Regions from separate parts of the Homo sapiens genome. Here region 2 is linked to region 1. Evidence: fine-mapped expression QTL. A gene starts in region 1. The other region holds a variant in brackets. All regions are shown on one strand. Distances are between the middles of the regions.

Region 1 (5,000 bases):
TAATTTACTATGCTTAGCCACTGCTGTTTTCTGGTTTCATTTTTTTTTTTTTTTTTGGTTGGGGGAGGAGGGTTGTTAAATAAAATTAAAGCTGTAACCCAATGCCAGATATAATAGAAAGAACTTGGTGTGCATTGACTGATGCAGTAAGCATTGAAATTTTCCATTTTCACTTTCTCTCTTTGTTGCCATAAAATGAGAGGGTGAGGCAAGATCGTGTCTGAGGGTGGGTCCAGCTCTCAGGCTCTGGAGCTCTGCACTGCTGGGTCTCCTGGTAAAGCCCTCCTCTGAGCTTGCATCTCAGCTCTATCCTGATGGCAAAGACTGTGCTCTTTTCAAACTCATAGATGACACCCTCCTACCTACTAAGGCTGTGGTGTACCACAACTAAGTTTAACCCCTCTCTCCTGGTCTGAAAAAGTCATCTAAACCACAGGGGAAATTATTGACCATGGTTTCCTAGATCTATGCAAGAAAAATGCTCCCAAACCCTAATGCTACAAAGCTGTATTTACTTGTCCCAACTCTTTCCCGGTGTGGTTCGGATTACCCTTTGCCTGCATATGTTTTGCAATACCTCTTGGCTCTTCATCTTTGCCCACTCCTCCAGCATGCTCACTACACCTGAGAAACTTAGCCAGTACTTGGCTTAAAAATCTTCAACCTACTCATCACCTAACAAGAGAGGGTTTAAAGTTGGCAGAGGGAATATTGCACAGAAACGCTATTTGCCAACCACCTACCAATAGCTGACTTCACAAGTGGTCCCTTATCAGATCTGCCCATCAGAAAAGAAGGAAGAAGATTAATGATCATTCTTCAGACACCAGGACTCCCTCCGGGGAAGCTCTCTATAGAGCTAAAGGCTTGTATTGGATTATTGTCACCGATCACTGTTTTAGGCTTGCATTCCTAGTAAAATTGAAGCTGAGCCTGTATCCCTTACAGTAGAAACTCCCAAATGCCATATTCAACATAATGAGTTTTCAGAAAGCTAAATATATCCAATGGGAAAGACTGGCCATTACATCCTTCCTGCATTTCGTTGTTATTGCTATTAAAGTGTACTTTAAAAAATAAAAATAAAAGGATAGTAATAGAAGACAGCAGGGTTTATTTTCATGTCTTTCTTGGCAGTTTAAAAAGTTGGCAATCCTATATCAATTTCTAATTTTTTTCTAAAACTCTACTGGTCATTAAAATTAGAAAACTGGTAGCCTCATGCCTAAAGTGGCTAGTTCAGATCAAGTTACATGTAAACTGAAGAAAGGAAGAGCCTCTGATTCAAACTCTTTAAGGTCATCATTTTTTTCTTTTTCTAAGACCATTTTCTATAGATCTCAAGGTGCATAATATGCATCGCGGAGGCCCTGTAGATTTAGATAGCGATTATAACCGATTCAAGTCAGGAAATTTCTTCTGAAGTATACCTACCTGTGAAACCCTCCATATCTGGGGCGCTCTGTGCCACGGGTGTCAGACTTTTGCAAAAGCCCTGTCATTCTAACGGGACGCCCTCCTGTAGGAAGTTGCCCCCTGGCGCCCGTCCTCCGGCTTCTGATGAAACGGCGACCCACCACCCCCTTCCCAGACCCTGGCCCGCAGCCGGATCACTCCGGGCGCGCTGCCGATCACGTGGCGAAGCGGTGCTCCCCAGCGCCGTGGCTGCGCGCCCATTGGTCGGCGGCTGGAGTCCCGGGCGCGCCCATTGGCTGCGGGGGGCGTTCACGTGGCAGGGGGCCTGGGATGGACCCCGGGGTCCCGAGAGCTGGCAGGAAAGTTAAAGGGGGCAGCGCGGCCGCGGGGAGCTCGAGTCCCGGGTGACTGCTGGAGGGAGGAGGTGACCGCGCAGCTCTCGTGCACGGACGGACTTCGCCGCCCGCGGGGGGCGCGAACCCGAGCCCGGGCCCAGCTCCTGCCGTCACGGCAGCTGTCCCTGTTCCCCCAGGGCGTATGCTGCCGCGGGCTGGCGCGTCTGCCCTCGGGACTTATGAGCTGAACCCGGTACGTAGCTCCCCAAGTCTCGAGTCCGAGGGAAGGGCTGGGGACAACAAGGCGAGGGCGTGCAGCGGGGACCTCTTTGGGTTCCTGTCACCTACATTTTCACCGTGCGACTTGCACTGGCACACCGGGGCTGGAACACTCTAGGTAGCTGGCCCCAGGGAGCTGTTGCTTCAGCGTGGAGAGGGCGATCCAGGGACCGCAGCTGGGAAGCGCCTCCCGGGCCCACGTGCTCCACCGCGCTGCTGGGCCCGGCTGCGACCGTGACCCGGGAGCTGCGGCTGCGGCGGCTGATCCCTTTACCACCTGTTGTTCTGGCTTCGAAACTAGCACAAGTTCCCAGCCCCGGGTCCCGAGAGGTCTGGAGACTTCTCCAAAGTTGGGTAGTGGGGTTTGGAGCTTAAGGACAAGCCGCTTCGTCTCTCTCCGGGCCTTATTTTCCCTATAAAACGCGAGGAAATACACTTGGTAGGCTCTCAGGCCACCGAGGGCGACGGGACCTAGCACGATCCCCGTCCCGGGCTGGCGGAGGCCAGGCGGCCGCGCGGGGGTGCTGGTGTCGCGCTGCTTGCTCCGGCCGGGGTTGCCCCTTTGCCGGCCCCGCCCGGGTGCGATAACGGGCTCCTCCTCCTCGTCGTCTTCCTCCCACCGCCGACATCTCCGGGAACCCAGCCCAGGCCCTGCCTCCCGGACACACCGACGCTCACGTAGTCGCGCTTGCCACAACCCTGCGGGCTCTCCGATGCGGCGAGCGAGCTGGGGAGGGGGCTTCTCCGCGGCCCAAAAGGTGGGTGCGGCGCGAGGCCAAGGAGGCTTGTAGGGAGGTTGGGGGCGGAGTGCAGCCCTGGTCAAACTGGACGGAGGGGACAGAGTCGGAGAGTAACTTGTGGGATCCTCCAGCCTGGAGAGCACTGGCCTGCTCCTGCGTCTCTTTGGAATCCAGAAAAAGGGGTGTGGAAGGCACAGTAGCTGCAAAAGAGGGAGTGGGGGCCGGTAATGACTTACTGGAAGATTTGGGGCCTGTCAGAGCACTGTTTTCTGAAAAAGAGGAGAAAACAGAGGAAAGACTGGACTTGGGAACTTGGAGACTTGGAAGGTGTTGGAACCTGTGGTCTGAGTGGCGGGGGCCTGCCTGGGAGACCCAGGGTGCAGCAGAAGAGACAATTAGAGCTTTGGTCTGGGAGGAAGAGGAGGAGAGGAGGAAATGTTTCCTTGGGCAGAGTTGTCCAGGAGCCAAAACTAAAGTGAAGACAGCTGGAGGACTTACACAAAAGTACAGTTGAGGTATTTAGGAAAAAAAGTTAGTGGGAAGAGAAGCGGCACCAGGGGTGGGTCGCAACATACAATGTCAGGGCCAGCAGGGACCTTGGAGGGGACCTCAAGCCCAGAGCAGCTGAGTGACTCGCTCAAGTAGCAAAGCAAGGTGCGGGCATTCTTAGCCTAGTACTCTGTTTTCCCTCGTACGTTTTTAGACGGCAGGGGCTGTGTCATTTGAACTTGCCTCTTTCCTAGAATATGCAACTGTATTCACAAATGTCAGTCTCCAAGATGCTTTGGATGATGGGGACAGGATCAAGGGGTACAAGGAGCCTTTAAGGCTGTGAATAGGCCCCCATGGTCTGAGTACAAAGGGGAAAGACATGCACTCTCTTCATGCTGGATCAGTGAAACCTTTTGGAAGGGAACACAGAATTGTTGGAGGGAGGTAGATGGCCATGTCTTTAAAAATGAAAATTATAACCTGGTTGTGAATGTTTACTGAATGCAGTTCGGCAGCTTTCAGTGTTCCTGGTGGGTTGCTTGTGCATCTGATTTTTTTGTTTGTTTGGTTTTGTTTGTTTGTTTTGAGACGGAGTGTCGCTCTGTCGCCCAGGCTGGAGTGCAGTGGCGCCATCTCTGGCTCATTGTAAGCTCCGCCTCCCGGGTTCACGCCATTCTCCTGCCTCGGCCTCCTGAGTAGCTGGGACTACAGGCGCCCGCCACCACGCCCAGCTAATTTTTATTTGTATTTTTAGTAGAGACGGGGTTTCACCGTGTTAGCCAGGATGGTGTCGATCTCCTGACCTCGTGATCTGCCCGCCTCGGCCTCCCAAAGTGCTGGGATTACAGGCGTGAGCCACCACGCCCGGCCTTTTTTTGCCTTTTTTTTTTTTTTTTGAGACGTAGTTTCGCTCTGTCGCCCAGGCTGGACTGCAGTGGCGCCATCTCGGCTCACTGCAAGCTCCGCCTCCCGGGTTCGCGCCATTCTCCTGCCTCGGCCTCCTGAGTAGCTGGGACTACAGGCGCCCGCCGCCACGCCCGGCTAATTTTTTTTTTTTGTATTTTTAGTAGAGACGGGGTTTCACCGTGTTCGCCAGGATGGTCTCGATCTCCTGATCTCGTGATCCGCCCGCCTCGGCCTCCCAAAGTGCTGGGATTACAGGCGTGAGCCACCACGCCCGGCCTTTTTGTCTTTTCTTACCAGAAGAAAGAGAGAGAGAGAATAAGAGAATGGAGGGGATAATGTCGTGGCCCTGATACAAAAAAGATTTCCTCCCTATGAAAGGTACAGCCAGAAAGTCAGTAGTTCAGCTGCCTGAAACCGTGAAGGTCATAGGGTTATTTTCTGTGCAGGTCTATAGTTATCACCATGGCCGTCTAACCTTGGCCAGCTGTCTTGAGAAGGTGTGTTATGAGTGGAACAGATAAAGCATTTATGCAAAACTATCTCCATGATCTGTTAGGGTTTGCCCTGTCTTAGCCATGAACACTGTAATCTACCCTCAAGCATGGCCCAGTCTCTCACCAGAGAAACTGATCCCTGAGCTCTGAGGCATCTCTATGGAAGCAAGTGTTTGAGAATTCATACCTACCTGGGAGCAGCACTCATACACTCATTCCTATCCTGCAACTGGTATCAGATCCTGAGTCCTGCTCTCATGGTTCAAATGTATGTCCATAACTTCTGGTTCTTTTTTTTTCCCCCTTGGCCAACTTTGGTGACTCATATTCCCTGGCCT
Region 2 (5,523 bases), 63 kb after region 1:
ACAGCTTGGAATATTTCTTCTCTGTCTTACTCTCCTCTCAAGCCTCTCAAATTGCAATTATACTGGAAAGTTCATTGTTTTATTGTGTTGTTGTTGTTTTTTGATCTTGTGTCTTTCCTCCACTTATTATTACTTTGAAACCATTTTCTTGTTTCACCTATTTCTTTTCTAAAGCACAATCTATAACTGAGGACATAGTTTTATCTATAGAGGAGGACCCCAGAGAGAGTTTCCTTTCTCATTTCTTCTCTTTTGTCCTATTTAAACTTTTAACCGTGTGCATGTGTAACTTTTTCCATTTAAAAACGAATACTCCTAAAACATCATCTTCACAGACTGTGTAATTCCAACGTATTCTACTTCATTTTCCACTCCTGGTCATGTAGATTTTTTTCCAATATTTTACCATAATCAATAAGCTAGAGTAAGTACCCTTAACATAGATCTTCATCTGCATTGCTGATTATTTCCTTTGGCTGGATTCCTAGAACTAGAATGATTGGGTCAACCAATGAGAACTTTGAAAGGCTTTTACATCACTGGAGAAACAGAACAAGTTGGCACCAAGGTGTCCTCCCACCAGCAAAATGCACCTGAGCTCACCACACCCCTTCTCTGTCGGCCCCTCTTCCTTTCCTCTCTCACAGCATATCAGGAGGAGGAAGAAGCAGTGGAGTTTCTGCATAATTGGGTCAAGCAAGTGTCCTGGGTCCTTGGATAAGGTTTGCTTACAAGGAGAAGGTGGGATTTTCATTACTGGCTCTTGGTGCCTGTCTGTGTCTCCCGGTTGCACATCCGCACACGTGCAGATTGGAAACATGGCACAATGAGACTGATGACAATCCAAAAAAATGCAAATGTGATATCATCTCAGCCGTCATCCTTGCTTTGCAAGTAGCACACCCTCTTTGCCAACGGTCGAGTCAGGAGCCGTTCTCTTGGATAATTTCAGGGAATCTGTCTCATTGTTCACATTCACATCCTCCTCCTCCCAATCTTATTTCCATTCCCACCAGCAAAATGCACCTGAACCCATCCTGCCACACCTTTCATTTCTTCACTGAAAAGCTAAGCGGACTCTGCCACCTAATCCCTCTGTTTTTCCTAATGGTGGGAAACAACAAAAACCCAAGGCATCGCTCCGGCTACACAAACCTCGTCATTTTGTACAGCTAGTGAAGAAGAGGTGGGGAGAACAGCATAGGATTGGAATCTGTGGGCTCCGGGCAGGACTTTGATGGTGACCAGGAGTGGAGTTCTGAAGGTAGAGCCAGGAGTCTCCACTCAGAGCCAGTGGGGCTCCTCTCTGCTTCCTCCTCATAGGGCATTTTCTTCCCTCTGAAGTTTGCATCATCTAGGGGACCACAGTGAACCACCAGTGGTCTATGGAACATACTTTGCAAACCCTTGTGTCCAAGTCATTCTCAGAAAAGGAAGAAGAATCTTAAGTTCCCCACTGGAAAGAGATCCAGGCTGCGTGTGGTAGCTCACACCCATAATTCCAGCACTTTGGGATGCCAAGGCAGGAAGCCCACTTGAAGCCAGTAGTTCAAGACCAGCCTGGGCAACACAGCAAGACCCCATCTCTATTTATAAATATTTTTAAAATTAAATAAATTAAAGAAGGTGAGAATGGTCTGGAATATGCCAGAATCATCTTTCCCTTTGGCCTATATGTTTTACAGGCAACAAAGAAGCACAGGTGAGAGAAACTCAGTGAAGAAAAGGAAAGAGGAGAGTGAAGCGGGAACCATGTTATTTCCCTAATCTATTTGAGGAAACCGAGCCTTAGTGATGGCGAATAACTTGCCAAATATCACACAGTGAGGAAGTGGTTGAGCCACAGTTCTACCCTAAGTCTGGCTAACTCTAAAGCCAAGGCCACCACATAACACTGTACGTGCTAACCCTGCAGCTTAGGAACTAACGTCACGCTGCTCTCCAGGGTAGGAGGAGCACGTAGTGAACCTATTAACTCACCCGCATGACCTGGTCAGGGAATGTGTTTGGCCTGTTCTGCAGAGACACTCATTGTCAACTCCCTGGTTAAACCCTCCAGCATGCTACAATCCAAAGGCAATGACGTGCATGTGAGCAATGAGGTGGATTCTCTGAAATTACCCAGGAGAACAGCTCCTGACTCAGCTGGTGAAAAGGAAGTGTGCTGCTTTCAAACAAAGGATGACTGACTAGCAGCCAGCTGAGCCCACAACTTGCACTGGCTGAATGGGCATTGCTCCCCCTCTGCGCCATCTCTCCCACCACTTATAAATGGGTGGATGGGCAACACACAGAGAGATACTCACTGTTAATCTCCCAGCAGTTTACACAAACGTCCGCTTGCATCACATGTCAAATTTCCTTCCCACACAAGCTGTGGTTTGCCGGTCGCCACTCCTGGTCCTTTCCTCTTTCTCTTTAATGATAATAAGAATGTCGAGAGCTTTAGCAGAATGGGCACAACTTGAGCTAACGGAATACCGTAAATGCAATTTCAGCGACATTAAATAGTTCAATGTTTAACAGCAAAGAAAGTGGGAAATTGAGTCAGTGAATGGCTAATTTGACCTGAATTATTCAGAAAACACTTTAATTTTTTTTTTTTTTTAATTTACAGAGGCTCAGACACAGAACAAATGCATGCACTGGTGTTAAATGCAGAGAAGAGAAGGTGTTATCTCCTGAAATGGATTCTGCTTTCTTCGGGGTTAGAAGGCCTCCTTTTTGAACTGACCTCAACCCTGCTGATTTTGTCTCCTTTCCTGGCCATGAGGA[T/A]CAGAAATCAGCAATGATTTCATAAGTAACTTCTCATGAAACCACATACCGCAGCGTGAGTCACACATGTAGCTCTGTGCACCTGTAGGCGTATATGCCATTCTTTTTAAATCTGCCAGGAATGTGATGATCAACTGGACCCAGTTTGCCTGGGATTTTCCTTATTTGTACTGAAAGTCTTGTATCCTGGGAAATCCCTCACTTCCAGGCATACTGGTGTGATTGACCATCCCACCCAGGAAATGAGGAAGAAGCAAGGGGTCCTTAATGTGTTGTCCCTACCTGAATCTGCCCCTTTCCCTCTCTGTGAAAGTAGGGAACCTCAAACCCTTGTGGGGCCTGATGCTCCCACCCAGCTGCATGGGGAGGACATTTATGTCAACTTGAGCAGAAAGTAGGGGATCTAAATTTATCTATTGAAATGTGTTGCTACATCTCCAAACTAAGATGTCTGTATCTGCGTGTGCATTAAAACACATATAATTACACAAGGAATACATGATCACTGTATAAAAATAAAAAATAAAAATCAAAATAAAAATAAGGGCAGGGTGCAGTGGCTCAAGCCTGTAATCCCAGCACTTTAGGAGGCCGAGGTGGGCCTAAGGTCAGGAGTTCGAGACCAGCCTGGCCAACATGTTGAAACCCTGTCTCTACTAAAAATCAAAAAAAAAAAAAAAAAAAAAAATAGCCACATATGGTGACATGCACCTGTAATCCACAGTTACTAGGGAGGCTGAGGCAGGAAAATGGCTTCAACCCGGGAGGCGGAGATTGCAGTGAGCCAAGATCGCTCCACTACACTCCAGACTGGGCAACAGGAGTGAAACTCCATCTCAAAAATAAATAAATAATAAATATAATTTAAAAATAAATAAAAATAAGATGAAGGTGGGGGGCAAGGGGAGGGAGAGCATTAGGACAAATACCTGATGCATGTGGGGCTTAAAACCTAGATGATGGGTTGGTGGGTGCAGCAAACCACCATGGCACACATGAACCTATGTAACAAACCTGCACATTCTGCACATGTATCCTGGAACTTAAAGTAAAATTCAAAAAACTTAAAAAAAAAATAAGATGAGAAGGTGAGAAGGAGGTCAAAGTTACTCAGAATCCTACCGCCCAGCACTAACTAGTTTAAAACTAGTTAAAATTTTGAGAATTTTCCTGTGTACACTTATAGATTATAATGTAGGCATATAAATGGGTATACATAATAGTAAGTCCATTGCAGGAAAACATACAGAATAATGGTTTGACACTCTTGCTCAGTCAACAGTATGAGTATTTATCCAAGCCAATATGTATGTTTTTACAACATCATGTTAATGGCCACATAATATTCTATAATGTGTGTTTATCACAGTTAACCACTTTGATTAGGTAGGACATTTAGGCTGCTTTTCATTTTTTACTGTTATAAACAGTGCTGAAACCAACAGGCTTCTTGCTATAATATTGAACACATCCTTACTTATTTTGTTACAATGCATTCTTAAGAGTCAAACTATGGGTCAAACAGAATGAATTGGTTGGTCGGTTGCCTAGTTTTGAGACGGTATCACTGTGACCCAGGCTGGAGTGACGTGGCGTGATCTCAGCTTGCTGCAGCCTCGACCTCCCTGGCTCAAGAGATCCTCCCACCTCAGCCTCCAGAGTAGCTGGGACTACATGTGCACATCACCACACCCATCTAGTTTTTGTATTTTTTGTAGAGACGGGGTTTTGCCATATTACCCAGGCTGGTCTCAAACTCCTGGGCTTAAGTTATCCTCCCACCTCAGTCTCCTGAGTAGCTGGGACCACAGGTGCAGGCCACCATGCCCAGCTAATTTTTGGTATTTTTGTAGCATTGGTGGTCTCACCATCTTGTCCAGGCTGGTCCTGAACTCCTGGGCTCAAGCAATTTGTCCACCTTGGCCTCCCAAAGTTCTGGGATTATAGGTGTGAGCCACCACACCTGGCCCGCTATCCCTGTTTTTTTAGCATTCATGGTAAATGCCGCAGTCTAGACAAACAAATTAGGACTTGAAAGAGGACGGGAGTTATTTCCTAATAGTAGGATAAAATTCTCTTTTCTGTGATTCCTCCTGGTTGCTCAAGAGATTATCTTCTAGATACACACAAACCAACACATGCATGCTTATGCACACACTTTAAAAAAAGCATCTTGATCATATAAGAGTTTGCTAAATTTGTCCTCAGCATGGAGACTGCCATTAACAAGTTAGAAAAAACCTGCTGTTCTGCGTCTCACAGACCTCAGCTAAGGAAAGACCACCATTTTATGGACACCAATCCCAACAGCTATACTTTGTTATAAATTAGCGTCACATATTCCTGTTTAATTCTTATTGACTCCTCCTCTAACTTTTACTGTCTCATCACTTAGAGTGAATCTAAATTAGGGGCCCTGAACTTTCTCTGTTAAGGGCCAGATAGTAAATACTGTAGGCTTTGTGGGCCATTACAGTCTTTATCACAACCACGACACTCTACAAGTTTAGTACACAAGCAGAGAGAGGCAATACATAAATGAATGAGTGTGGCTGTGTTCCAGTAAAAATTTATTTATAAAAAAAGATGGTAGGGCCGGGCGCGGTGGCTCAGGCCTGTAATCCCAGCACTTTGGGAGGCTGAGGCAGGTGATTACTTGAGGTCAGGGGTTCAAGACCAGCCTGGCCAACATGGTGAAACTCTGTCCCTACTAAAAATACAAAAATTAGCCAGGCATGGAAGTATAAG

The links.
Region 2: its variant is fine-mapped to the expression of PPP1R3B in whole blood (TOPMed, PIP above 0.99).

The regions. Positions count from the first base shown.
Region 1 is chr8:9,148,351-9,153,350 of GRCh38, reverse strand. PPP1R3B (protein phosphatase 1 regulatory subunit 3B) reads left to right here and starts at 2,693. Exons shown (of 2, transcript NM_024607.4): 1 at 2,693-2,788. It overlaps PPP1R3B-DT (PPP1R3B divergent transcript), which reads right to left and starts at 1,626. Exons shown (of 5, transcript NR_183348.1): 1 at 1,435-1,626. RefSeq lists silencers at 1,689-1,938, 2,439-2,708 and enhancers at 2,059-2,298, 2,345-3,293.
Region 2 is chr8:9,085,353-9,090,875 of GRCh38, reverse strand. It overlaps a transcript of ERI1 not described here. Among named protein-coding and RNA genes, the nearest start is that of SNORD3I, 29 kb to the right of the region's middle. The variant T/A (reference allele first, on the strand shown) is at 2,776.